2 separate regions of the Homo sapiens genome follow, and region 2 is linked to region 1. The links come from fine-mapping of genetic effects on gene expression. A gene starts in region 1. The other region holds a variant in brackets. All regions are shown on one strand. Distances are between the middles of the regions. Region 1 holds the start of GMEB1 (glucocorticoid modulatory element binding protein 1). Region 2 has its middle 31 kb from the start of SESN2.

The links.
Region 2: its variant is fine-mapped to the expression of GMEB1 in CD4 T cells (BLUEPRINT, PIP 0.95).

The regions. Positions count from the first base shown.
Region 1 is chr1:28,658,768-28,675,289 of GRCh38, reverse strand. GMEB1 (glucocorticoid modulatory element binding protein 1) reads right to left here and starts at 6,506. Exons shown (of 10, transcript NM_001319674.2): 1 at 6,451-6,506. RefSeq lists enhancers at 3,248-3,766, 5,265-5,324, 5,375-5,424 and silencers at 5,955-6,244, 6,255-6,364, 6,395-6,534.
Region 2 is chr1:28,284,127-28,297,226 of GRCh38, reverse strand. No RefSeq gene overlaps it. Among named protein-coding and RNA genes, the nearest start is that of SESN2, 31 kb to the right of the region's middle. RefSeq lists an enhancer at 6,325-7,319. The variant TA/A (reference allele first, on the strand shown) is at 4,836.

The DNA.
Region 1 (16,522 bases):
ATCCCAGCACTTTGGGAGGCCAAGGCAGGTGGATCACAAGGTCAGGAGATCAAGACCATCCTGGCTAACATGGTGAAACCTCGTCTCTACTAAAAATACAAAAAATTAGCTCAGCGTGGTAGCGCACGCCTGTAGTCCCAGCTACTTGGGAGGCTGAGGCAGGAGAATGGCGTGAACCCAGGAGGCAGAGCTTGCAGTGAGCCAAGATGGAGCCACTGCACTCCAGCCTGGACGACAGAGCAAGACTCCGTCTCAAAAAAAAAAAAAAAAAGGCCGGGCGCGGTGGCTCACGCCTGTAATCCCAGCACTTTGGGAGGCCGAGGCGGGCGGATCACGAGGTCAGGAGATCGAGACCATCCCGGCTAAAAACGGTGAAACCCCGTCTCTACTAAAAATACAAAAAATTAGCCGGGCGTAGTGGCGGGCGCCTGTAGTCCCAGCTACTTGGGAGGCTGAGGCAGGAGAATGGCGTGAACCCGGGAGGCGGAGCTTGCAGTGAGCCAAGATCCCGCCACTGCACTCCAGCCTGGGCGACAGAGCGAGACTCCGTCTCAAAAAAAAAAAAAAAAAAAAAAAAAAAAGAATTAACTATTCTGGCCGGGCACGGTGGCCCACACCTGTAATCCCAGCACTTTGGGAGGACCAGGCAGTCAGATCACCTGAGGTCGGGAGTTAAGAGACCAGCCTGACAAACATGGAGAAACCCCATCTCTACTAAAAATACAAAATTAGCCAAGCGTGGTGGCCCATGTCTGTAATCTCAGCTACTCGGGAGGCTGAGGTAGGAGAATCACTTGAGCCCAGGAGGCGGAGGTTGCAGGTGAGCCAAGATTGTGCCTTTGTACATGGGGAACAGAGGGAGACTCCGTCTCAAAAAAATAAATAAATAAATAAATAAAATTAACTGTTCCGTAGTTTTTTGGGTTTTTGTTTTCTTTCGTTTTGTTTTTTGAGACAGGGTCACCCTCTGTCACCCAGACCAGTGTGGAGTACAGTGTTTTTGGCTCACTGCAGCCCCGACCTTGGGGCCTCAAGTGATCCTCCCACCTCAGCCTCTGGAGTAGCTGGCACTATGGGTACCAACCACCAACCCTGCTCATTTCTGTTTTCCTTTTTTTCATTAACTTTTTTTTTTTTTTTCAGACGGAGTCTCGCTCTGTCACCCAGGCTGGAGTGCAATGGCAGGGTCTTGGCTCACTGCAACCTCCACCTCCCTAGTTCAAGCAATTCTGTCTCAGCCTCAGCCTCCCGAGTAGCTGGGATTACAGGTGCCCGCCACCATGCCTGGCTAATTTTTTGTATTTTTAGTAGAGACAGGGTTTCATCATGTTGGCCAGGCTGGTCTTGAACTCCTGACCTCGTGATCCACCCACCACGGCCTCCCAAAGTGCTGGGACAGGCATGAGACACCACGCCTGGCCTAATTTCTTTACTTCTTTGTAGACATGAGGTCTTGCTATGTTGCCTAGCCTGGTGTCAAACTCCTGGGCTCAAGCAATCCTCTCACCTCGGCCTCCCAAAGTGCTGAGATTAAAGACCTGAGCGACTGTGCCCAGCCTGTAGTTATTTCCAAAGACAAAAACAACACTTTGAAACTAAGCACATCGCTGCTTATATAGCCACCAGAAAACTAAACAAATGATTTCTGACCCACTCTAAATTCATTTTTGTGTGTCCTGAAAATCCAATGTCTATAATGTGGCAAGATGCTATGTTTGAATAAGGACAAGTGTCAGGCTGCACGCAGTGGCTCACGCCTGTAATCCCAGCACTTTGGGAGGCCAAGGAGGGTGGATCACAAGGTCAGGGGTTCGAGACCAGCCTGGCCAACATGGTGAAACCCCGTCTCTACTAAAAATACAAAAATTAGCCAGGCGTGGTTGTGGGTGCCTGTAATCCCAGCTACTCAGGAGGCTGAGGCAGGAGAATCGCTTGAACCCAGGAGGCGGAGGTTACAGTGAGACAAGAACGCGCCACAGCCACTGCACTCCAGCCTGGAAACTCCATCTCAAAAAAACAAACAAACGAAAAATGGACAAGTGTCACATGATTGCAGGGAAGGACATTGGAACTAGTAATGAAAAAGGAGTAATACTGGCTGGGCGCAGTGGCTCACACCTGTAATCCCAGCACTTCGGGAGGCCGAGGCAGGCGGATCACCTGAGGTGGGGAGTTCAAGACCAGCTGGCCAACATGGAGAAACCACGTCTCTACTAAAAATACAAAATTAGCCGGGCGTAGTGGCACATGCCTGTAATCCTATCTACTCGGGAAGCTGAGGCAGGAGAACCACTTGAACCCGGGAGGCAGAGGTTGCGCTGAGCCGAGATCGCGCCACTGCACTCCAGCCTGGGCAACAAGAGCAAAACTCAAAAAAAAAAAAATTATCTGGGCATGGTGGCATGTGCCTGTAGTCCCAGTACTCGGGAGGCTGAGGCAGGAGAATCACTTGAACCCAGGAGGAGGAGGTTGCAGTGAGCTGAGATTGTGCCACTGCACTCCAGCCTGGCAACAGAGCGAGACTCCGTCAAAACAAAAAAAAAAAAAAAAAAAGGAACAATATGTCACCCAGGCCAGAGTGGGGAGGGATAGCATTAGTAGATATACCTAATATAAATGACGAGTTAATGGGTGCAGCACACCAACATGGCACATGTATACATATGTAACAAACCTGCACGTTGTGCACATGTACCCTAGAACTTAAAGTATAATAACAAAAAATAATAATAATAATATTGGCACTTTCTGGGGACTTAAAAAAGTAGGCCGGGCGTGGTGGCTCAAGCCTGTAATCCCAGCACTTTGGGAGGCTGAGGCGGGCGGATCACGAGGTCAGGAGATGGAGATCATCCTGGCTAACACGGTGAAACCCCATCTCTACAAAAAATACAAAAAAAAAAAATTAGCTGGGAGTGGTGGCGGGAGAGTAGTCCCAGCTACTCGGGAGGCTGAGGAGGAGAATGGCGTGAACCCGGGAGGCGGAGCTTGCAGTGAGCCAAGATCGCGCCATTGCACTCCAGCCTGGGCGACAGAGTGAGACTCCGTCTCAAAAATAAATAAATAAATAAATAAATAAATAAATAAATAAAAATAAAAGTTAAAAAAAAAAGTAAAAATGAGTACGAGATTTTCTGAAATTTTCTAACCCCAAAATATTTATTTAATTTTTTTTTTGAGACGGAGTTTCTCTCTTGTTGCCCAGGCTGGAGTGCAATGGCACGGTCTCGGCTCACTGCAACTTCCGCCTCCCAAGTTCAAGCAATTCTCCTGCCTCCCAAGGAGCTGGGATTACAAGCATCTGCCACCACGCCCAGCTAATTTTTGTATTTTTTAGTAGAGACAGGGTTTCACCATGTTGGCCAGGTGGGTCTCAAACTCCTGACCTCAGGTGATCCGCCCGCCTCCACCTCCCAAAGTGCTGGGATTACAGGCGTGAGCTACCGCGCCCAGCCCAAAATATTTATTTATTCCACACTCTATTATAACTTTTGAAGACTGTGTAGTCGTTTTATTTTTTATATATTTATTTATTTATTTTTTAGTGAGACATAGTCTCACTCTGTCACCCAGGCCGGAGAGCAGTGGTGCGCTCTCGGCTCACTGCAACCTCGACTTCCGGAGCTCAAGCGATCCTCCCACTTAAGCCTCCAGAGTAGCTGGGACCACAGGCAACTAGCTCCACCACGCCCATCTAATTTTTGTCATTTTTTGTAGAGACGGGGTTTCACCATGTTGCCCAAGCTGGTCTGGAACTCGAGCTAAAGAGAGGCCGAGGAGGCCGCTCACTTTGGGAGGCCGCCTGTCTCGGCCTCCCACAGTGCTGGCATTACAGGCATAAATCACAGCGCCCGCCAGAAAACTAACAAAATTAGGCGGGCGCAGTGCCACGCACCTGTAGTCCCAGCTACTCAGGAGGCTGAGCTGAGAGGATCGAGTTTGCAGTGAGCTGAGATCCCGCAATGCACTCTCACCTGGGCAACAGAGGGAAACTCTGTTCCCCCAAAAAAATAAAATAAAAAAGAAATTTCCACTCTAAACTACAGTTTTGTTTAAAACGGGGGGAAAAATCCAAGTTAAAACTTTATTATTACTTGAGGCCAAAACTCCTTGATATCCCCTTTATTTCTTCTCATGCATTCAGTGGGTGATCCATAGTGCTACAAGATGTAATGAGGTCAACAAGTAAATTATGCAGAAACACTGAGGGAAGTATCCAGAGGAGGTGAAATTCTAAGTCACAGACTGGAGACTATTATGTAGATGTTTGAGGGAGCGATGGGATAAGAGTTATTTGGAGTCATCCCGCTACAGTCCGGTGGACTTTGGCTTAGGGCAAGACCAAAATACTGCCCCCACAATAAACCCAATGAAGCTGAGTAGAAGCTACCTATACAATGTATTTGCTGAAGTAAATAGGAACCCAAAAAAAATCATTTAAGTAAGATATTAAATATACATCCTTGATATAAGGCTCTCAAATTAGGAGACGGTGCAACCATTGAATAAGTTTCCCCCGCCGGGCGCAGTGGCTCACGCCTGTAATACCAGCACTTTAGGAGGCCAACGCGGGCGAATCACAAGGTCAGGAGATCGAAACCATCCTGGCTAACATGGTGAAACCCCGTCTCTACTAAAAACACAAAAAAATTAGCCTGGTTGGGCCAGGCGCAGTGATTCACGCCTGTAATCCCAGTACTCTGGGAGGCTGAGGATGTGGGATCACCTGAGGTTGGGAGTTCGAGACCAGCCTGGCCAACATGGTGAAACCCCGTCTCTATTAAAAATACAAAAATTAGCTGGGTGTGGTGGCGGGCGCCTGTAGCCCCAGCTACTCGGGAGGGTGAGGCAGGAGAATCGCTTGAACCCAAGAGGCGGAGGTTGCAGTGAGCTGAGATCGCGCCATTGCACTCCAGTCTGGGCAACAGGAGTGAAACTCCGTCTCAAACAACAACAACAACAACAACAAAATTGGCTGGTGTGGTGGCACGCGCCTGTAGTCCCAGCTACTCGGGAGGCTGAGGCAGGAGAATCGTTTGAACCCAGGAGGCGGAAGTTGCAGTGAGCCACCACTCCAGCCTGGGCGATAGAGTGAGACTCCGTCTCAAAAAACAAATAAATAAATAAATAAATAAAAAGGGTCCCCAAATGCACTTTGGTAACTATTAGAAGAGGCAAGGAGGAAGAAGATAATCCCTCAAGACTAGAATTATGTCTGACAGTCTCTTTTCCTAAAACCCGTCTTGATTGGCCTAAACAGACACCAATCAAGGCCCCATCTGTGTCTACTAGGAAGTGGTTTTGAGATTTCTCTCATCTTGAGAGAATCCAGGGCTGCGCCTGCTCTGCTGTCTAGGTCAAGACTTCACCCTCTTGTCTTGTGGATCATCCTCCAAAGACCCTCGGGTTGAGATTTTGCCTTCATCTCTCCTGCCCCTCAATTAGATAACACCTGGCCAATTCCTGTCATTTCAGAAAGCGGGAACACCTTAAGCATCTTTCCTCAACGATCTCTGCTTCTCTCAAAAAGATAGGTTTCTCCATCCCCTGACCGAGCGGGTTACTTTGTTCTCCACCTAGACATCAAGAGGCACCTAGACACCTTCCATCCCCTCAGGTTTGGACGCTGCTCTTTCGTACTTCAGGAGGCTCTAGGAGTCTTCCTACCACGCGCTCATCTGTGGGGAGACCTGGGCCTGCTCACTTCCCCTTAGAGCTCCTCTTCCTTCCCTGCCTTTGGAAAAAACCTGCCCTTTTTTCCCTTGTTCTGAGTGGCCGAGGCCTCTACCGCGCCCCTCGGGATAAGCTGGACTCTGCTCTCCTCAGAAGAACCCACTCTGTACTCTTGCTCTCCCGCCAAGGCTCCGAGAGGGTCTCCTCCCAGGCGGGCATCCGGGCTTCCAGCACCTATCGTCCCCCTCCCACTGGGCAGGACCCAGGCCTCCAACCAGCTCCTCATCCAAGGGCCCGGTGCTCCCCGGACCCCGCCTTTGGGGATACCCCAGGCTCCCCGGACCCCTCGATGGGGTCCTGGGCGCCTGGCCCTCTCAGTCCGGAGTCACTCCGGCCCCTCCTGGCCCCTGAGCCGAGTACTTCCGGGCCCCTCGGTCCGGGGGCGCCGGGGCCCCCCCAGTGGTGGACTCGCCGGTTCCCGCCGCCCTGGTCTGGGGCCCGAGCCCCGGCGGCGCGGCCGGCTGCGCTGGGGGCGGCCCGGCGGCTCGGGCGGACCCAGCGGCAGCGTCCCCCCACCCCCCCGCGGCGCCGCGACGTCCGCTCGCTCCCCGGCGGCGGCGGCGGCACGCACAGGGCGTGGGGAGGCGCCCGCGGAGGCAGCAGCCCCCCGCCCCCTGCGCGCCCGCCCGCCCTCGCCGGCCGCCGCGCGGCCCCCGCGCCCGCCCCCCCGCCCCCACCCCACCCCGCGCCCGCGCGCCCACCCCTCCCCCTCCTCACCGTCTCCGTCGGGCGGGCGGGCGGCGAGCGGCCAGGGCGGGCAGGCGACGGAGCATGCGCAGAGGCCGCCACGGCAGCTACCGCCACCGCCGCCGCCAGGCCGGGCTTCAACACTTCCGGCCGCCGCCGCCGGAGAGCTGGCGCCTTAAAGGGGACGCGTCCCTATTGCCGGTCCCACCGAGGATTAACCTTAGCCAAGGGATTTGGGCCTTACCTAAGCAGAATTCTTTCGCCCTTGAAAATCAGTGTTGGAAAGGTCGCTAGAGACCCCAGTAACTCTCCTTCCCGCACTCATAGATGAGGAAAATAGGCCCTAAATGAAAGAATCACCTCAACCACAATTGAGGGCCAAGCTAGCTTTCTCGACTCCTCTGGAGGACTCTACTCCATTTACCTCCCCAAATCCTGTTTTATGAAGTTTACATCTTATCGGACCCTTCAAGTTACAATCCAGCTATCAGTTTGCAATCAGAAGATCTGCATAGATCAGTAACTGGTCACGAGTCCTTGAGCAAGCCCTAAGCATTGTCTGACCCGTGCCTGTTTGCCAAGTTTTTCCTGCTTGTGAGTTTCTGGGTTGAAGTCTTGACTCCCCTGCTGGAAGTGTAAACGACTCTGGAGGAATTTCTTGACAGCTCTAAACCTGTTTCCGATAAGACATAATGTGAGTGCTAAAGAAGGTGATACCTGCATGAAAAGTGCTTCAGAGAGTTCCTGGGGTCAGTAATAGTAATTAACAAGTATTAAGACCTTTATTTTTTATTTATTTATTTATTTTTTTAGACAGAGTCTTGCTCTTTGGCCAGGCTGGAGTGCAGTGGCGCGATCTCGGCTCACTGCAGCTTCAGCCTCCTGGGTTCAAGTGATTCTCCGGCCTCAGCCTCCCGAAGAGCTGGCACTAGAGGCGCGCGACACCACGCCCGGCAATTTTTTTTTTTTTTTGTATTTTAGTAAAGACAGGATTTCACCATGTTGGCCAGGATGGTCTCAATATCTGACCTCATGATCCACCCGCCTGGGCCTCCCAAAGAGCTGGGATTACAGGCGTGAGCCACCGCGCCCGGCCGTATTAAGACCTTTCTATGGCCAGGTGTGGTGGCTTACGCCTGTAATCCCACACTTTGGGAAGCCGAGGCGGACAGATCACTTGAGACCAGGAGTTCGAGACCAGCCTGGGCAACATGGTGAAACCCCGTCTCTACTAAAAATACAGAAATTAGCCGGGCGTCGTGGCACGCGCCTCTAGTCCCAGCTACTCAGAAGGCTGAGCCAGGAGAATCACTTGAACCCGGGAGGCGGAGGTTGCAGTGAGCCGAGATCAGGCCATTGCACTCCAGCCTGGGCAACAGAGTGAGACTCTATCTCAAAAAACAAACAAACAAAAAGACCTTTCTATGGCCTATGGCTTGGTGAAGATGCTTCTGTCTTGTATAATCCTCACAGCAACCCTACTAAGTAAGTTTCTCTTTTTTTTTTTTTTTGAGACGGAGTCTTGCTCTGTCGCCCAGGCCGGAGTGCAGTGGCGCAATCTCGGCTCACTGCAAGCTCCGCCTCCTGGGTTCACACCATTCTCCTGCCTCAGTCTCCTCAGTAGCTAGGACTACAGGCGTCCGCCACTACGCCTGGCTAATTTTTTTGTATTTTTTAGTAGAGACAGGGTTTCACCGTCTTAGCTAGGATGGTCTCGATCTCCTGACCTTGTGATCCGTCCGCCTCAGCCTCCCAAAGTGTTGAATTACAGGCGTGAGCCACCGCGCCCGGCCCTTCTTTTCTTTTCTTTCTTTTTTTCTTTTTTTTGGTGGGGGGGACCGGTCTGGGTTGATCTCCCAGGCTGAGTGCAGTGGCGGGATCTCGGCTCACTGCAGCCCCAGCCTCCAGTGCTCAAGCAGTCCTCCTGCCTCAGCCCCCGGAGTAGCTGGGACCACAAGCAGGAACCACCATGCCTGGCTAATTTTTACATTTTTAGTAGAAATGGGGTTTTACCATGTTGCCCACTCTGGTCTCTAACTCCTGGGCTCAAGCAATCCTCCTGCCTTGGCCTCCCAAAGTGCTGGGATTACAGGTGTGAGCCACCATAATTGTTTGTTTATTGATTGATTGATTTGGAGACGGAGTCTCGGTCTGTGCAGTGGTGCGATCTTGGCTGCCTCCCAGGTTAAAGCGATTCTCCTGCCTCAGCCTCCCGAGTAGCTGGGACTACAAGCACGAGCCACCACGCCTGGTTAATTTTTTGTATTTTTAGTAGAGACGGGGTTTCACCGTGTTGGCCAGGATGATCTCGATCTCTTGACCTCATGATCTGCTGCCTTGGCCTCCCAAAGTGCTGGGATTACAGGCATGAGCCATCGCGCCCAGCCAATTTTTGTATTTCTGGTAGAGACAGGGTTTCACCATGTTGGCCAGGATGGTCTCAATCTCTTGACCTCGTGATCCTCCTGCCTCAGTCTCCCAAAGTGCTGGCATTACAGGCGTGAGCCACCGTGCCTGGCCATTTATTTTTATTTAGTTATTTTGGAGGATAGAGTCTCCTCCTGGGCACAAGTGATCCTCCAATCTTGACTTCCCGAGTAGCTGAGACTATAGGCTTGCACAACCACGCCCAGCTCCTTTTTGTATTTTTCATAGAGCTGGGGTTTCACCATGTTACCAAGGCTGGTCTCAAATTCCTGAGCTCAAGTGATCCACCCACCTCGGCCTCCCAAAGTGCTGGAATTATAGTCGTGGGCCACCGTGCCTGGATGATAACTGATTTTTTTTTTTTTTTTTTTGAGATGGGGTCTCGCTCTGTCGCCAGGCTGGAGTGCAGTGGCCCTACAATCTCAGCTCACTGCAGCCTCTACCTTCTGAGTTCAAGGGATTCTCCTGCCTCAGCCTCCTGAGTAGCAGGGATTACAGGCATGTGCTGCCACACCTGACTAATTTTTGTATTTTTGGTAGAGACGGGGTTTCACTATGTTGGCCAGGCTGGCCCCAAACTCATGACCTTAGGTGACCCACCCGCCTCGGTCTCCCAAAGTGCTGGGATTACAGGCCACTGTTCCTGGCCTATAACTGATATTTTTTTTTTTTTGAGACAGAGTCTCACTCTTGTCACTCAGGCTCGAGTGCAGTGGTGCCATCTCGGCTCACTGCAACCTCTGACTCCTGAGTTCAAGTGATTCTCCTGCCTCAGCCCCGGAAGTAGCTGGGATTACAGGTCCCCACCACCACACCTGGCTAATTTTTGTATTTTTAGCAGAGACGTCGTTTCACCGTGTTGGGCAGGTTGGTCTCAAACTCCTAACCTCCGGTGATCTGCCTGGAGCCACCACTTCTGGCAACTGATTTTTTAAAAGACAAAAACTTCAAGCATCATCTGGTCTCTCCTCCAGCCTGGAACAGTGTCTCTGGCTGTCCACCGACTCTCCATACTCCACATGCCCACAACTGAATTTGTTTCTTTCCCCACCCACCTTAGATGTCTTCAACAAACCTGCTTCTGTCCTAGTGTCCCCCACCTCAGGGAATGTTGCCCTCATCTCTCAGTCACCTCCCAAAGACCCCTAGAATATCATCTCTTCTCTAACCCCCACTGGTCCAGATCATCATCATCTGCCTCTGTCACAGCCAGTGCCTCCTAATTGGTCTCCCTACTTCCTGTCTTGCTGCCTTTGAGTCTTCATTCTTAATTCTTTTAGTGGCCTCCTATCCCCTTTAAAAAAAATTGCTTGTGAACTCCCCATCATGGTCTATAGGACCTGGCACTGGGATCCTTTCTTTACTTTCTTTCTTTCTTTTTTTTTTTTCGAGACGGAGCCTTACTCTGTCACCCAGGCTGGAGTGCAGTGGCGCAATCTCGGCTCACTGCAACTTCTGCCTCCCAAGTTCAAGTGATTCTCCCACCTCATTCTCCCAAGTAGCTGGGACTACAGGCACATGCCACCACACCTGGCTAATTTTTATATTTTTAGTAGAGATGGGGTTTCACCACGTTGGCCAGGCTGGTCTCGAACTCCACCTCAGCTTCCCAAAGTGCTGGGATTACGGATGTGAGCCACTGCGCCTGGCCTTGACTTGCCTTCTTTCTGTCTCTCTAGTCCAGCCACACTGGCCTTCCTAAAGTTCCTCCAACACATGGATTTCACAGCCTTTCCCTGTTTCGCCAGGCCAGGCACCCTCTTCCTCTGGATCTTCAGCTGCCTCCTTTGCATCTCCCAGGTCCCAGCTCCTCAGCGTGGTCTTCGCTGTTCTCATTGTCTCAAGCTGTGCCTTCTCCCCAGACACTCTTACCTCCTTTATAGCCCTTACCCATTCCTGACATATCTTGTCCCCGTCTGTATCTACAGTTCCCTCCCCTCCCCTCCATACATATATACCCTGCAATGGAACCTCTGTGAAAGCAGGGACAAACTCGATTTTATTCATGGTAGGACTCCCCCAGCTCCTAGAATATTGCTTGATACCTAGAGAGCACTCAAAAAATATTTGAAAGCCTATTAAGGACTGCCTGTGTTTTTGTATCTACTTCCCCACCCCCCACAGCTTACCCCACCCTTCTGCATCCACATTCTCAGAAGCCAGAAGCCACTAACAGATGGAGAGTGAATCAGAAAAGGAGGCAGAGAGAGAAAGGGAGGAAATTCTGCCAGTTGGTGCAAAAAAAAAAAAAAAAAAAGACTAGGATGAATCTAGATGCAGCAGTCAGGTGTATCACCTCCTGCTCCACCCCACCGCACCCCTACCCTCACCCAGGGTCCACCACCGCAACCAAAACAAAAGGCAAGGCCGGTTGCGGAGACTCACAGCTGTAATCCCAGCACTTTGGGAGGCCAAGGCGGGTGAATGGCTTGAGTCCAGGAGTTTAAGGCTGCAGTGAGCCATGATCAGGCCACTGCACTCCAGCCTACATGACTCTGTCTCGAAACAACAACAACAACAATAACAAACCTTCCACTGACACTTACCACCCACTCACCTTACAGAACTCAGAGCCCAGTCGGTGCTGCCTCCCTTGTCGTAGGACCTTCATTCCTTTGTTAAGGCTCTCTCTGGGCCTCAGTCTACTTATCTGTGATGGTGACCATTATGCAACTAAACTTAAGCCTGATGAGACAGAAATAATTTGATAAAGGCTTATTGGAAGGCAAATGTGAGAATTGACCCAGGAAGACACACCAGCAGAGTTGGGCATGTTCCCGAGTCTGTCCCAAGGACAAAGGTTTTTACAGGAAAGTTTAAAACAAGGGCGTGGGGTCCTCATACCAGAATTGTCCTCTTTTTTTCTTCCTTTTCTTTTTTTTTTTTTTTTTTTTGAGACGGAGTTTCGCTCTTGCCCAGGCTGGAGTGCAATGGCGTGATATCGGCTCACCAAAACCTCCACCTCCCAGGTTCAAGTGATTCTCCTGCCTTAGCCTCCTGAGTAGCTGGAATTACATGCATGCACCACCATGCCCGGCTAATTTTGTATATTTAGTAGAGATGGGGTTTCTCCATGTTGGTCAGGCTGGTCTCGAACTCCCGACCTCAGGTGATCCACCTGCCTTGGCCTCCCAAAATGCTGGGATTACAGGCGTGAGCCACCGTGCTCGGCCTTTTTTTTTTTTTTTGAGACGGAGTCTCATTCTGTTGCCCAGGCTGGAGTGCAGTGGCGCGATCTCAGCTCACTACAACCTCTGCCTCCCAGGTTCAAGCGATTCTCCTGCCTCAGCCTCCCAAGTAGCTGGGACTACAGGTGCATGCCACCATGCCGGGCTAATTTTTTGTATTTTTAGTACAGACAGAGTTGCACCGTGTTAGCCAGGATGGTCTCGATCTCCTGATCCACCCGCCTTGGCCTCCCAAAATGCTGGGATTACAGGTGTGAGCCACCGCGCCTGGCTTTTTTTCTTTTTTTTAGAGACAGGGTCGGTCGGGCGCGGTGTCTCACACCTGTAATCCCAGCACTTTGGGAGGCCAAGGCGGGCAGATCATGAGGTCAGGAGATCAAGACCATCCTGGCTAACACGGTGAAACCCCACCTCTACTAAAAATACAAAAAGTTAGCTGGGCGTGGTGGCGGGCGCCTGTAGTCCCAGCTACTGGGGAAGCTGAGGCAGGAGAATGGCGTGAACCCGGGAGGCGGAGCTTGCAGTGAGCCCAGATCGCGCCACTGCACTCCAGCCTGGGTGACAGCTAGACTCCGTCTCAAAAAAAAAAAAAAAGAGACAGGGTCTCACTTCGCTGCTCAGGGTAGAGTACAATGGTGCAATCATAATTCACTATAGCCTGGAACTCCTGGGCTCAAGGGATCCTCCAACCTCAGCCTCCAGAGGTGCGCTTCAGTTAATCTTAAAAAAAAAATAAATCAGCGTCCCATTTAGTGTCCCACAGGTTACACATTGATCAGTACAACAATTTGAGAAATTTACAATGAGATTTTTTGCTAGTATGTTCCTATTGTTCTGTACAAAAAAGAAAAAAACGGAATCTTTTTTTTTTTTTGAGACAAAGTCTCACTCTGTTGCCCAAGCTGGAGCACAGTGCAACCTCCACCTCCCGTTTTCAAGCGATTCTTCTGCCTCAGCCTCCTGAGTAGCTAGGACTACAGGCACGCGCCACCATGTCCAGCTAATTTTTTTATTTTTAGTAAAGACAGGGTTTCACTATGTTGGCCAGGCTGGTCTTGAACTCCTAGCATCAAACGATCCGCTCTCCTCAGCCTCCCAAAGTGCTGGGATTACAGGCGTGAGCCACCACACCTGGCCTGAAAAAACAGATTCTTTTTGTTTTTTCTGAGACAGAGTCTCATTCTGTCACCCAGGCTGGAGTGCAGTGGCACCATTTTGGCTCACTGCAACCTCCATCTCCTGGGTTCAATCGATTCTCCTGCCTCAGCCTCTTGAATAGCTGGGACTACAGGCCCTCGCCACCGCACCCGGCTAATTTTTGTATTTTTAGTAGAGACGGGGTTTCACCATGTTGTCCAAGCTGGTCTTGAACTCCTGACCTGAGGTGATACACCTACCTCGGCCTCCCAAAGTCCTGGGATTATAGGCGTAAGCCACCGAGCCCAGGCGAAAACAGATTCTTTACTGGGAGACAGAATGTCACCATTGTGTCATAAGACTTCTCCAAGGTGGTTTAATTTGGAATCCTGCTTACTTTCAAAAGTGAGCTGAGGGTTATCAAATAATAACTACATTTATGAGCACTTCTGCTCTACCAGGCATGATGTGGACACTTGGCATAAGCACTGTTGGCTCATTAGCGTGTAAGCTCCCTGAGCCAGTGACCACCTCCCAGCTCAGTGTCAGGGATATCACAGGCACACCCAAAATCTTACTCTTCAATATCTTTCCTTTTAAATTATTTCATTTTTAAATTAACTTTTAATTTTTTATTGTGATAAAATAGACATTACATAAAGTTTACCATTTTAACATTTTTTTTGAGACAGAGTCTCGCTCTGTCACCCAGGCCACAGTGCAGTGGTGCAATCTTGGCTCACTGCAACCTCCGCCTCCCAGGTTCAAGCAATTCTCCCATTTCAGCCTCCAGAATAGCTACTCCAGAGTAGTAGGACTGCTGGCGTGCACCACCACACCCAGCAAATTTTTGTATTTTTAGTAGAGGCGTTGTTTCGCCATGTTGTCCAGGCTGGTCTCAAGCTCATGACCTCAAGTGATCTACCCGCGTCGGCCTCCCAGAGTGCTGGGATTACAGGCATGAGCCACTGTGCCTAGCCAGAATTTGACTGTGCTAAGTGCTTCCTATAAGTAGTATTGTACAATATTTGTCCTTTTGAGTCTGGTTTATTTAACCTGGCATAATGTGTTCAAAGTTAATTCATGCTATGGCATGTTTCAGTACTTCATTCCTTTTTATGACCAAATAATATTTCCATTGTATAGACATCCATTGATTTGGTGTATCCATTTATCCTTTGATGGACATTTGAATTGTTTATACTTTTTGGCTATTGTGAGTAATGCTGCTATGATGCTATGAACGAGGGTGTACGAATATCTGTTCAAGTTCCTGGTTTCAATTATTTTGCGTCTATACCCCGAAGAGGAATTGCTGGATCACATGTTTATTCTGTGTTTCTTTGTTTATTTATTTATTTATTTTTGAGATGGAGTTTTCCTCTTGTTGCCCAGGCCAGAGTGCAGTGGCACGATCTCAGCTCACTACAACCTCCACCTCCTGGGTTCAAATGATTCTTCTGCCTCAGCCTCCTGAGTAGCTGAGATTACAGGCGTGCACCACCACGCCCAGCTAATTTTTTGTATTTTTAGTAGATTCAGGGTATCCTCATGTTGGCCAGGCTCGTCTCGAACTCCTGACCTCAGGTGATATACCCACCTCGGCCTCCCAAAGTGCAGGGATTACAGGTGTGAGCCACCGCACCCTGCCCTGTGTCGATTTTTTTCCTTTTTGTCTTTTTTTTGAGACAAAAAAAAGTCTCACTCTGTTGCCCAGGCTGGAGTGCAGTGACGCACTGTCAGCTCACTACAATCTCTGCCTCCCAGGTTCCCGCATTTCTCCTGCCTCAGCCTCCCAAGTAGTGGGGACTATAGGTGCACACCACCACGCCCAGCTAATTTTTTTTTTTTTTTTTTTTTTTTGTGACAGAGTTTCACTGTGTTGCTCAGTTGCAACCTCCGCCTTCTGGGTTCAAGCAGTTCTGCCTCAGCCTCCTGAGTAGCTGGGATTACAGGCACGCGCCACCACACCCAGCTAATTTTTGTATTTCTAGTAGAGACGGGGTTTCACCATGTTGGTTAGTCTGGTCTTGAACTCCTGACCTCGTGATCCGCCTGCCTCGGCCTCCCAAAGTGCTGGGATTACGGGCGTGAGCCACCATGCCCGGCCTTTTTTGGTTTTTTTGAGAGGGTCTTCATTCTGTCGCCCAGGCTGGAGTGCAGTGATGTGACCTCCGCTCACTGTAGCCTCTGCCTCCCAGGTTCAAGAGATTCTCGTGCCTCAGCTTCCCTAGTAGCTGGAATTACAGGCGCACATCACCAAGCCCACCTTTTTGTATTTTTAGTAGCATTCCAATCTCCCTTGGTTTAATGTAGAGGAAGGGATCCAAAGGCTTAGGGAAATTGGAACGCTAGAGTGGATTAGTCACTTTAGACCTACTCATCCCCACTGGGAGGGTCCAGAAGACCTATCCTTCACCATAGGGTATAACCTTGTGAAACAGATTTCTGAAGGGAGCACCCGTGTCCTTGAAGAGCTCTGTGATTGCTCCTCTCTGTATGCCAGATCGTACAGTGGGAACTGTACTCACTCAATTGGAAAACTTAAACGCAGTGGGAATAATTAAATCCCAAGGTGGCAGGAGCCAAGTGGCAACACTCAACCATCAAAGGCAAAGCAGATGTAGTTACCGTAATGGACAGCAGAGGCAAAGCAGCAATCGGAATAGTCTGACTCGTTGATAGAAAGCCTACTGAATTCTTTTTTTTTTCTTTTGAGACAGAGTCTTGCTCTGTTGCCCAAGTTGGAGTGCAGTGGTATGATCTCAGGTTACTGCATCCTCCCCCTTCTGGGTTCAAGTAATTCTCCCGCCTCAGCCTCCCGAGTAGCTGGGATTACAGGCATGTGCCACCAAGTCCAGTTAATTTTTTTTCTTTTTTTTTTTTTTGAGAGGGAGTCTTGCTCTATCGCCCAGGCTGGAGTGCAGTGGCGCAATCTCGGCTCACTGCAACCTCTGCCTCCCAGGTTCAACAAAGGTTTTTACAGGCTGGGACTACAGGCCCATGCCACCATGTCCAGCTAGCTTTTGCATTTTTTGTAGAGACGGGGTTTTACCATGTTGTCCAGGCTGGTCTTGAACTCCTGGCCTCAAGTGATTCACCCGCCTCAGCCTCCCAAAGTGCTGTGATTACAGGCATGAGCCACTAGGCCCAGCCCAATTTTTTTTTTTTTTTTTTGAGATGGAGTTTTGTTCTTGTCAGCCAGGCTGGTCTTGAACTCCTGGCCTCAAGTGATTCACCCGCCTCAGCCTCTCAAAGTGCTGTGATTACAGGCATGAGCCACTATGCCCAGCCCAATTTTTTTTTTTTTTTTTTTGAGATGGAGTTTTGTTGTTGTCACCCAGGCTGGA
Region 2 (13,100 bases), 380 kb after region 1:
TGCTGGCAGGGCTGGGATTCAAATGTCCTCTACATAGAGACTGTCCTCCTAACCTCTATTCCAAAGGGCCTCCCACGTAGGAGAGGAAGAGGCTGGCACAGTAGGTGCACAACGAATGTTGCTAAATGCTTGACTCTCTTGAATCAATTCTGCTTTGACTGCACTTTCCTCTGGACTATGCTTTGCCCTTCTCCAGTTCATCCTGGCTGTGTCGTCAGACCACGTGACACACACTCCCCTCGGGGGCCCTACTTAATTCCTGCTGACCTGGAATGTCTTCCAAACACTCCGGTAAACTGGGAGGAGTCTGTGGGCTGTAAATCCTGGATCTTGGGCAGCCCAAAGGTCTCTGTTTGCGCTGACCCAGACAACAGCTGGAACTCCAGCCAGGGGAGATGCTGCCTGGCGGGGGAGGAGGCATGGAACGTGCGAGCCTTCCCATCCTCCCCCACACAGAGGAGTCCAAGGTCCAAGGCTACAGGTCTGCTGTCTTGAACATATTGCTCACTTTTTGGTTTCCGTGGTATTTATGTGATAAAACCAGTTGTTCTTTGTTGTGAGCCTCCTCACGTCATAACAGCCTTGTGGTAGATATTTGGGAAAAGGACCATGATGATTTGGATCCATCAAACTCAGATTGCTCCTCCTGAAAACACGTTTTTTCCCCAAAGTCTATTTGTTTTCCATTTACTAAGCAGTTGATATGTGCCAGGTGTTGTATTGAACACATTACGTGCATTATATAATTCAGAATTTCTCAAGCTCAGGGCCATTGACTTTTTGGACTGGATAACTCTGTGTTCAAAGGGACCACCCTATGCATTGGAGGATGTTTAGCAGCTTCCCTGGCCTCTACCCACTGAGATGCCAGAGGCCCCCTGTAACAGCCAAAAATGTCTCCAAACTTTGCCAAATATCCCGTGAGGACAAAATCATCCCTAAGTAAGAACCACTGATTTAACTGAATAGACATAAGGATCTTATGAACTATTATCCCTTTTCCCAGAAGAGTAAACTGAGACTAACAGAGGTGAAGTGACTCACCTAAAGTCATACAACAAATGGTAGAGCTGGAATTTGAACTCTGGCTCCAGTGCATAGGGTTTTAATCACTAGACCAATGTCAACAAGACTGTCAAAAGACTGACAATACCAAGTGTTGGCAAAGATGCAGAGCAACTGGAACTGGAGCTGGGTGCAGCGGCTCATCTCTGTAGCCCCAGCATTTTGGGAGGTCAAGGCAGGAGGATCACTGGAGCCCAAGAGGTCTAGACCAGTCTGGGCAACATAGGGAGACCCTCATCTCTACAAAAAATAAAAAATAAAAATAGCTGGGTATGTCCACATAAATAGCAGGTTTACTCATAATAGCCAAAATTGGAAACAACTCAAATGTCTATCAACTCATGAATGAATAAATGAATTGTAATATATCCATACAATAGTATTGTGCTCAGCAACAAAAAGGAATGAACTATGGATACACACGACAACATGAATTAGCTTCAAAAGCTTTATGGTAACGAAGAAGACAAACACAAAAGATTACACAATGAGGCCAGGTGTGGTGGCTCAGGCCTGTAATCCCAGCACTTTGGGAGGCCAAGGTGGGCGGATCACTTGAGCTAGGGAGGTTGAGGCTGCAGTGAGCCATGATCGTGCCACTGCACTCCAGCTTGGGCGGTGGAGTGAGACCCTGTCTCAAAAAATAAGAATAATAACAAATATTTGTTAATAGAAAATATTGCCATTTATATGTCATCATTTCTCAAGAAGTGATCACGTTATCTATGTACTTATTGTAAGTTTTTTAGGTATAATTTTTTTTTTTTTTTTGAGACAGAGTTTTGCTCTTATTGCCCAGGCTGGAGGGCAATGGCACAATCTCAGCTCACCGCAACTTCCGCCTTCTGGGTTTAAGTTATTCTCCTGCCTCAGCCTCCTGAGTGGCTGGGATTACAGGCATGTGCCACCACGCCCGGCTAATTTTTTTTTTTTTTTTTTTTTTTTTTTTTTTTTTTTTTGAGACGGAGTCTCGCTCTGTCGCCCAGGCCGGACTGCGGACTGCAGTGGCGCAATCTCGGCTCACTGCAAGCTCCGCTTCCCGGGTTCACGCCATTCTCCTGCCTCAGCCTCCCGAGTAGCTGGGACTACAGGCGCCTGCCACCGCGCCCGGCTAATTTTTTGTATTTTTAGTAGAGACGGGGTTTCACCTTGTTAGCCAGGCTGGTCTCGAACTCCCAACCTCAGGTGATCCACCCACCTTGGCCTCCCAAAGTGTGGTATAATTTTTTTTTTTTTTTTGAGATGGAGTTTCGCTGTTGTTGCCCAGGCTGGAGTGCAATGACACGATCTTGGCTCACCACAACTTCCGCCTCCTGGGTTCAAGCGATTTCTCCTGGCTCAGCCTCCCAAGTAGCTGGGATTACAGGCATGTGCCACCACACCCGGCTAATTTTATATTTTTAGTAGAGACAGGGTTTCTCCATGTTGGTCAGGCTAGTCTCAAATTCCGACTGTGATCCACCTGCCTCGGCCTCCCAAAGTGCGGTATAATTTTTTTGAAATGGAATCCTGCAACATTGCCCAGGCTTTTCTGGAACTCCTGGGGTCAGCTTCAGTTTTCCCACCTCAGCTTCCTGAGTAGTTGGGATTGCAGATGTAAACCACCACACCCGATGTGTAGGTATAATTTTTATTAATGGTCAAACTCTCTTCAGTAAATGTGTAAATTATGATTATTATAGTTCTTTTCTTCAATAGGTTACTGTCAATTTATCTAATGACCTCTGCATTCATTAGCAAACACTCCACAATGACAATATTGTCTTAAGACTAGTGAATTAATACATTTTGTTGCATTATGTTTGTGTTCTAAACTTAAAAGCTAATTTTTGAATGCAAAACTTTGTCATCTGCTAAAGAATTAAATGGATTAAGAATAACAACAAAAACAAAAACAAAACTAATTTGTAATAACAGAAAGCTGATAGTGGGTGCCTGGGGCCAGAAAGCAGGATGGGATATTCACTGCAAAGGAGCACAAGGAAATTAGATTTGGATGGTAGTTGCATAGGCGTATGCTTTTCTCAAAACTCATGGAAATGTCTGCATTTAAAATGAGTGCGTTTTGGCCGGGCACGGTGGCTCGCGCCTTTTATCCCAGCACTTTGGGAAGCTGAGGCGGGCGGATTGCCTGAGCTCAGGAGTTTGAAACCAGCCTGGGCAACATGGTATAACCCCGGCTCTACTAACAATACAAAAAATTAGCCAGACGTGGTGGCGGTCGCCTGTTAATCCCAGCTACTAGGGAGGCTGAGGCAGGAGAATCGCTTGAACTCGGGAGGCAGAGGTTGCAGTGAGCCAAGATCATGCCACTGCCCTCCAGCCTGGGTGACAGAGTGAGACTGTCTCAAAAAAAAAAAAAAAAGTGTGCATTTTATTATATGCAGATTCTACTGTATAAATTTGGTTTGAAAGGAAAAAATAAATTGCGGCAGGGAAATGCAGATTGGAGGAAGATATCAATGTGAAACAGGAAAAGAGGCTTAGAGGGTTCTTCTTTGGTTGGTCAGTGACTTTGGCTCTGAGATTTGTTTCCCCAAATTCTTACCCAGGAGCACCGGAGGCCCAGCTGAAATGCCACCACTTCTAGGAAACTTCCCTGGCTTCCCCAGCCCACAGTGTCTTCTGGGAAGAATGTTCATTCTGCATATTAATATTTAAAAATTCCTTCATCGGCAGGGTGCAGTGGCTCACGCCTGTAATCTCAGCACTTTGGGAGGCCAAGGCGGGTGGATCACTTGAGATCAGGAGTTCAAGACCAGTCTGGCCAACATGGGGAAACCCCATCTCTACTAAAAATATAAAATTAGTGGAGCATAGTGGCGCACACCTGTAATCCCAGCTACTTGGGAGGCTGAAGCTTGAGAATTGCTTGAACCTGGGAGGCGGAGGCTGCAGTGAGAGGAGATCGTGCCACTCCAGCCTTGGCGACAGAATGAGACCCTGTCTCAAAAACAAACAAACCTCCTCCATAAGTGAGTGCATTTCAGTTTATTAAATGCTTTCAGCCTATTATTTCAGCTGATTCTTTAAAAAAAAATTTATTATTATTTTTTAATTTACCACAACATGTCAGTCAACTCAGCTGATTCTTAACCACTGATCAGGTCAAAGATTCTCCCCATTTTAGAGATGGGGAAACTAACATTTTCCTTCAGGGAAAGAAGTGACTTGTTTACATCTTAAAGCCACAAATTAAGACAGTGCCTGGACTAGTACCTGGGCCTGCAGTGCTCCTTCCCTTGGAAGGCAGTGGAAGGGTGGGTGGAAAGAGCACTTTCTGGAGAGTTTAGAACTCCTGCTCATTTGCTTGGGACATGTCTGGGCAATGTTAATATTGCTAGACCTCAGCTTTCATAGCTAAAAATTGGTAAAATCCTCACTTTGCCTATGTCTCAGGATTGTGGTTAGGATTGCCTAGAACAGTCTTGGCTCATAAATAAGTGATTAAAAAAAAATATATATATATATAGGCCAGGCGCAGTGGCTCACGCCTGTAATCCCAGCACTTTGGGAGGCCAAGATGGGCGGATCACAAGGTCAGGAGATCGAGACCATCCTGGCTAACAAGGTGAAACCCCGTCTCTACTAAAAATACAAAAAATTAGCCAGGCGTGGTGGCAGGCGCCTGTAGTCCCAGCTACTAGGGAGGCTGAGGCAGGAGAATGGCATGAACCCGGGAGGTGGAGCTTGCAGTGAGCTGAGATAGTGCTACTGCACTCCAGCCTGGGCGACAGAGCAAGACTCCATCTCAAAAAAAAAAAAATATA[TA/A]TATATATATATATTTATATTTATATATGTATGTGTATATTTAGATATTGAGACATGGTCTCACTCCATCACTCAGGCTGGAGTGCAGTGGTGCAATCACAGCTCACTGCAGCCTCGACCTCCCAGGCTCAAGCGATCCTCCCACCTCAGCCCCCCAAGTAGCTGGGACTACAGGTACGTGCCTCCACCTCCAGCTAATTTTTCTATTTTTTGTAGAGTCTGGGTCTCATTCAAGACCAGGGGCTGGTCTTGAACCCCTGGGCTCAAGCGATCCTCCCACCTCAGCCTACCAAAGTGCTGGGATTACCAGTGTGAGCCACTCCACTCTGCCGCCAAAATATTTAATGACTCCTTGAACCTAAAATAAACGGGAAGAAAAAAAATGTAATGAAAACAACAAACATTTATTGAGCACTTATGCTAGCATATGGTAGACATTGGGATACAACGGTGAACATGGAGACAGGCAGGAAACAATAAAGATTATGAAACGTGTTGAAGAGAAAAGAAATGGGAAGGGGCAGGGTGAGGCTGAGAAACAGGGGTCAGGTCCGAACTCTCTGATGAGACGATGTTAAAGGTGAAACTGCAGGTTTAGAAAGAGCTTGTCTGGAGAAGAGCATTCCAGGTTGTGGGAATTCTATACTATCTTTTATCTCACAACTCCCATTTCATAGATGAGGAACCTGTGGCTTTGAATCTAAGAAAATGGTACTGACTCTGTCTTCTGCTGAAAAGAAGAACTTAACTAAACAGGCACTTTATAATCATTTTCTCTTTCTCTTTTTAAAGCCTGGCCTATGGAATCCAACATTTTCTCATTTGATTCTGACAATTTTTTTTTTTTTTAAGGCAGAGTCTCACTCTGTCTCCCAGGGCGGAGTGCAATGGTGCCATCTCAGCTCACTGCAACCTCCACCTCCCAAGTTCAAGCTATTCTCCCACCTCAGACTCCCAAGTAGCTGGGACTACAGGTGCCTGCCACCAAGTCCAGCTAATTTTTGTATTTTTAATAGAAACGGGGGTTTCACCATGTTGACCAGGCTGGTCTCAAACTCCTGACCTCAAGTGATCCACCTGCCTTAGCCTGCCAAAGTGCTGGGATTACAGGCATGAGCCACCGTGCCCAGCAATAATTTTTTTTTATGTAGATGGTAATGTTCCCATTTTATAGATGAAGAAATTAAAGGAAGTTACCAAGAGCCATACGGGTACTTGATCTTGTTTATTTAAATTCTGCCTCATTCCAGATGGCTTTGCACTCAGATTTGAGCCTCATTTGTCTGGTTCCAAAGTCCAAGCTCTTTCCCCGACACCAGACTGGTGCTGAGTATCTGAGAGCTGGCCATTTAACAGACAACCAGGCAGGGAGAGACAGCCAGAGCAGAGGCCATGTCCACAGCAGCAGGAGGCTATTGTTTCTTAAGCACTGCCACCTGGGCCCAGAACTAGCCCAGGTATCCTGGTGGATACAAGCATGTATTCCACACCTATTTCTTCAACCCCTGCTACATGTCAGGCCCTGTGCTAGGCTCTGGAGATAAATGCAGTAGAGAACATACCAGACAAAAATCCCTGCCTTCCTGGGACCCCCAATTGAATGGGGAGATGACGAAGCCACACAAATGATTATAATTTTAGAAAAAAAAATGCCTCAGAAAACAGAAGCACTTTGTAAGGGTTAAAGAAGGAAGATGGATCCTCTGGGTGGTGTTTGGGATCCACTTTAAAATGGAAATAATAGGCTGAGCACGGTGGCTCACACCTGTAATCCCAGCACTTTGGGAGGCTGAGGTGGGTGGATCGCTTGAGCTCAGGAGTTCTAGACCAGCCTGGGCAACATGGTGAAACCTGGTCTCTGCTAAAAATACAAAAATTAGCCGGGGGTGGTGGCACGTGCTTGTAATCCCAGCTACTCGGGAGGCTGAGGAAGGAGAATGGCTTGAGCCTGGAAGGCAGAGGTTGCAGTGAGCCAAGATTGCGCCACTGCACTCCAGCGTGGGTGAAAGGGCAAGACTCCATCTCAAAAAAAAAAAAAAAAAAAAAGGCCAAGTGCGATGGCTCATGCCTGTAATCCCAGCACTTTGGGAGGCCGGGGTGGGTGCATCTCACAAGGTCGGGAGTTCAAGACCAGCCTGGCCAACATAGTGAAATTCCATCTCTACTAAAAATATAAAAATTAGCCGGGCCTGGTGGCAGGCGCCTGTAGCCCCAGCTACTCGAGAGGCTGAGACAGGAGAATCACTTGAACGCGGGAGGCAGAGGTTGCAGTGAGCCGAGATCGCACCACTGCACTCCAGCCTGGGCGACAGAGCGAGCGAAACTCCATCTTAAAAAAAAAAAAAAAAAAAAGGCCAGGCCTGTAATCCCAGCAATTTGGGAGGCTGAGGCAGGCGGATTACCTTAGGTCGGGAGTTCGAGACCAGCCTGACCAACATGGAGAAACCCATCTCTACTAAAAATACAAAATTAGCTGGGTGTGTTGGCACATGCCTGTAATCCCAGCTACTTGTGAGGTTGAGGCAGAAGAATCGCTTGAACCCAGGAGGCAGAGGTGGCGGTGAGCCGAGATTGTGCCATTACACTCCAGTGTGGGCAACAAGAGCGAAACTCCGTCTCAAAAAAAAAAAAAAAGAAAAAAAATGCTGGGCGTGATGGCTCATGCCTGTAATCCCAGCACTTTGGGAGGCCGAGTTGGGCAGATCACCTGAGGTCAGAAGTTTCAAGACCTGCCTGGCCAACATGGCGAAACCCCATCTCTACTGAGATACAAAAAATAGCTGGGCGTGGTGGTGGGCGTCTGTAATCCTGGTTACTTGGGAAGCTGAGGCAGGAGAATTGCTTGAACCTGGGAGGTGGAGGTTGCCGAGATCACTCCACTGCACTCCAGCCTGGGCAGCAAAGCAAGACTCCATCTGGGAAAAAAAAAAAAGGAGCTAATAGTGGGCTCTACTATCTAGTGCGGCAGTGAAAATTAAATAAGATCCTGCCGGGCTGGGTGTGGTGCCTCACGCCTGTAATCTCAGCACTTTGGGAGGAGAAAGCAGGAGGATTGCTTGAGCACAGGAGTTCAAGATCAGCCTGGGCAACATAGCAAGACCAACGTCTCTGCAAAAAATAAAATAAAAAATTAGCCAGGCATGGTAATTTGCACCTGTAATCCCAGCTACTTGGAGGCTAAGGCAGGAGGATGGCTTGAGCCCAGGAGGTCGAGGCTACGGTGAGCTGTGATGGTGCCACTGAGAGAGACCCTGTCTCAAAAAAAAAAAACTAAAACAAAAACGAAAAACATGCCTGTGATGTACTTCATGGGCTACTTGGCACAAAGAAGTTCCTAAATAAGCCTTACTACTTTCTCCACTCTTTCTTCTAATAAATACAAACTATTTTGTAATAAACAGCAAAATTTCCTTTGAAGACTTCCCATTGCCCATAGGGTAAAGTCCAAAATTCCTGATGTACCCTGTGAGGTCCTGCTAGATCTGCCCTGGGGCTTTCTTCTCAGCCTCAGCCTTTCTTATGTTCTCCCAGCTCCTTCTGTCCCTACAAGGCTGCCTTCTCCTTCCTGCTTCAAATCCTTTCCCCATGCTGTTTCCTCTGCCAGAAGTTATCTTTGCTCCATGCTCTTTTCTCCCCTCTCATCCTTGGCCGATCCTTTCTTATCCTTCAAGTCCAGGGTAGGCTGTACTTTCTCATAGCTCCCTGTGCTCTTTCTTTCCCCAGGGCTTATCACAAGAATTTGTGTGACGAGCTGGACGTGGTGGCTCACGCCTGTAATCCCAGCACTCTGGGAGGCCAAGGCAGGCAGATCACTTGAGGTCACGATCAACCTGGCCAATATGGTGAAACCCTGCCTCTACTAAAAATACAAAAAGCTAGCCGGGCGTGGTGGCACACGCCTGTAATCCCAGCTATTCAGGAGGCTGAGGTGGGAGGATCGCTTGAACCCAGGAGGCAGAGGTTGCAGTGAGAAGAGATTGTGCCACTGCCCTCAAGCCTAGGTGACAGAGTGAGACTTCATCTCAAAAAAAGAAAAAAAAGAATTTGTGTGATGTTCATTTTTCCCACTGGGGTTTATAGGCCCATGAGGACCACAGCTGTCTGTCTTATTCACTGCTGTACTGCCAGCATGAGCAGGGGCTGGGACACAATAAAGTACTTGATAATGTTGGCATGAACAAAGAAAAGAGCTTCCTGCTGGGCGCAGTGGCTCATGCCTGTAATTCCAGCACTTTGGGAGGCCGAGGTGGGTGGACCACGAGGTCAGGCATTCGAGACCAGCCTGGCCAACATGGTGAAACCCTGTCTCTACTAAAAATACAAAAATTAGCCGGGCGTGGTGGCACACGCCTGTAATCCTAGCTACTCGGGAGGCTGAGGCAGGAGAATTGCTTGAACCTGGGAGGCGGAGATTGCAGTGAGCCGAGATCATGCCACTGCACTCCAGTCTGGGTGACAGAGCAAGACTCTGTCTCAAAAAAAAAAAAAAAAAAAAAAGGGAAAGAAAAAGAAAAGAGGTTCCTTCTTGAAATGTGAGTTTGGAAACTCAGAAATGGGACAGAACTCAAAGCTCCCCACCACCACTCCAAATATAATCCAACTGTGAGGTCAGAGGTGATTCAAACATGGGCGGAAGGAATTTCTGCTGCCATCACCAGCTGAGACATGGTTTTTCTCAGGACCAGGCACATTGCACAGAGGTAGACTTGAGAGAAGATGTTGAACTCAGGCAATACTTAACCTCCCCAGAGAGGGGAATTGACTTGTCCAAGGTCTCCAGCCATTGGAGTGAGAACCTATTCTGGCCACTACAGCTGTTGCCTCTAGCCTCAGGCAGGGCAAGTCAAAGCAGGAAGTTGTAGGACTGTGGCACAGGGTGGTGACAGACTATGAAGAGGATCTGAAGGTTCAGGCTTGTGAGACCTCAGGTAGGTCATTTCCCCACTCTGGTCCTTATTTTAACCATCTGTAATAAGAGAGTGTTTTAAGTACTCTTTTAAGGAGACTGAGATGGAGATTTGCCTACAGAGGGTTTACTGGGGAATCATATTACAGGACAGTGAGAAGCATAACTGGGCAGAAGTTGGGCTGCAATGCTGCTGCAATGGAGGATTCATCTGATCCTAAGGGGTACAATAAAGCTGGGATAATCCTTCAGAGTTGTTTCAAATGGAGGCTGAGGGTCCGGGCCTCTGTACTCTTCTCTCCCATCAACCAGTCATTGGAGGCAGACTGCTGGAAGGAGGCGTAACCATGAGCTAAGTGGCTCCCTTCAACTCAGGATAGTGGCCAGAGAGAGACTCAGCTGAAATTCTTCAGCAACTTGATGGAGTGGGAGATGTGGGAAAACGAGTGCCATAGTCTGGGTAGCACATGACAGCATCCACTACAGAGGAATATGAATGAGCAGTTTTCGAACTCTGTTCCATGGAGCCCTGAGATTTCAAGAAGGTGCTTCAGTGCATGGGAAATTGCTGTTCTTGGATGTGTTGGAGCTTCTGCAAAAGTCCAACATATTTCCTTGGAAGAAAAGGCTCTCCTGCTAGGTGGTGAATGCCCTCACAGCACCTCATATTTTCCCTTTGAGGTGCCAATCAAAATTGTAATTTAAATAATTTGTCCAGGCATGGTGGTTCACGCCTGTAATCCCAGCACTTTGGGAGGCTGAAGCAGGTGGATACCTGAGGTCGGGAGTTTGAGACCAGCCTGGCCAACATAGTAAAACCCCGTCTCTACTAAAAATACAAAAATTAGCCAGGCATGGTAGCGCATGTCTGTAATCCCAGCTACTCAGGAGGCTGAAGCAGGAGAATCGCTTGAACCCAGGAGACGGAGGCTGCAGTGAGCCAAGATCACACCACTGCACTCCAGCCTGGCTGACAGAGTGAGACTCCATCTCAAAAAAATTAAAAAAAAAAATAAAAAATAATTAGTTGCATAACGGTCTAAGGTCTGTCTCTTTCACTTGACAGTAAATCCCAAGAAAGCAGGAACCATGTCTGTCTCCTTCACTGCTAAGTCTCCAGGACATGTGACACATTAGAACCATAACATCTGTTCAAAGAACTCATACCAAGGAAGCTATTAAAGATGCAGATTGCTGAGCTCTGCCTCCAACCACTGGTTCTCTAATGAGATTCTAAGGCACAAAACAGTCTGTGAACTACTTCTCTAATCCACCTGCTCTAGGGCTCTGGTGAATGTTTGCAACCTGCTGGAGGAGACTCACTTGGCTTTTTTTTTTTTGGTCGGGGAGAGAAGGAGTTTCACTCTTGTTACCCAGGCTGGAGTGCAATGGCGCGATCCCGGCTCACTGCAACCTCTGCCTCGCAGGTTCAAGCGATTCTCCTCTTTCAGCCTCCTGAAATAGCTGGGATTACAGGCATGCACCACCACATCCGGCTAATTTTTGAATTTTTGGTAGAGACAGGGTTTCACCATGTTGGTCAGGCTGGTCTCAAATTCCTGACCTCAGGTGATCCACCTGCCTTGGCTTCCCAAAGTGTTGGGATTACAGGCTTGAGCCACCATGCCCAGCCCCGGCTCCTTTTTCTACTCACTCTCACCAGTTCTCAAATCAAGCATGGTTCCAAAAGACAAAAGAATTAGCTGGGCGCAGTGTTGGGCGCCTGTAATCCCAGCTACTCAGGAGGTAAGGCAGGAGAATCACTTGAACCTGGGAGGCAGAGGTTGCAGTGAGCCAAGATCGCACCATTGCACTCCAGCCTGCGCGACAGAGTGTGACTCTGTCTAAAAACAAAAACAAAAACAAAAACAAACAAGCAAACAAAAAAAAAGAAAAAGAATTGAGCTACCGACAACCTTCTGCAAATTCCAACCTGGGTAGATGTGCACAGGTCTTGAGTTGCAGGCTACAGAAGTCTAAAATAGATTCATTAGATCCAGTCTGAAGCTGAGTTTTCAACTCCATTTGCAAATTTAACATGATTTTAAAAATATTTATTTATTTATTAGACAGAGTTTCATTCTGTCACCCAGGCTGGAGTGCAATGGCGCTGGGATTACGGGCGCCCACCACGACACCTGGCTAATTTTTGTATTTTGAGTAGAGACGGGGTTTCACCATGTTGGTCAGGCTGGTTTTGAATTCCTGACCTCAAATGATCCGCCTGCCTCGGCCTCCCAAAGTGCTGGGATTATGGGTGTCAGCCATCAGGTCCAGCCTAATAAACATGATTTTTTTTTTCTTTTTTTTGAGAGGAGTCTCCCTTTGTCGCCCAGGCTGGAGTGCAGTGGCGCAATCTTGGCTCACTGCAAGCTCCGCCTCCTGGGTTCACGCCATTCTCCTGCCTACAGGCTGGGACTGTAGTCCAGCCTACGTGGCATGCATTGAGTGTGACTGTTGCCAAATGTTTTCAAATTTAATCTCGCAATCTTCGCAACAACCGTGTGAGGAAAGGGTCTGTTCCCATTCTATAGATGTGGAAATGGAACCTCAAATGAGAATCTGGGGAACACCAATTTAACAGACAGACCCAAATTCAAATTCCAGCTTTGACATTTAATATCAGTCTGATCATGAGCAAGTTGCTTCAATACTCCCTCCTCAATTTCCTTATCTGTGGGATGGAATTAATACCTAAGGTTACAGGAGGGTTGTGAGGATTAAATAATACTGGGTAGCTGGGATTACAGGTGCCCGCCACCACGCCCGGCTAATTTTTTTTTTTTTTTTTTTTTTTTTTTTTTGTATTTTCAGTACAGTTGGGGTTTCACCGTGTTAGCCAGGATGGTCTGGATCTCCTGACCTCGTGATCCACCCGCCTTGGCCTCCCAAAGTGCTGGGATTACAGGCGTAAGCCACCGTGCCCAGCCATTATTTTTTTTTAAATGCATATTGAGGATTTAGGCACTTTGGAGACAAAAATAATGCAATACAGGGTTGGGCATGGTGGCTCATACCTGTAATCCCAGCACTTTGGGAGGCTGAGGCGGGCAGATCGCTTGAGCCCAGGAGTTCAAGACCACCCTCGGTAACATGGCAAAGGAGTTCAAGACCACCCTTGGCAACATGGGGAGGCTGGGGCAGGAGAATCACTTGAACCTGGGGAGGTTGCTGTGAACCGAGATCACACCAATGCACTCCAGCTCCATCTCAAAAAGAAAAAAAAAAAAGCAATACAAAGAACTCTGGAATCAGAATGAGAAGGATTCAAATTCTACCTCAGTCGCATGAGCTTGGGCAAATTTCTGAATCCTGAACAGCTTGCGAATGCTAGATGCCAGGTACCTGAACTGTGCTA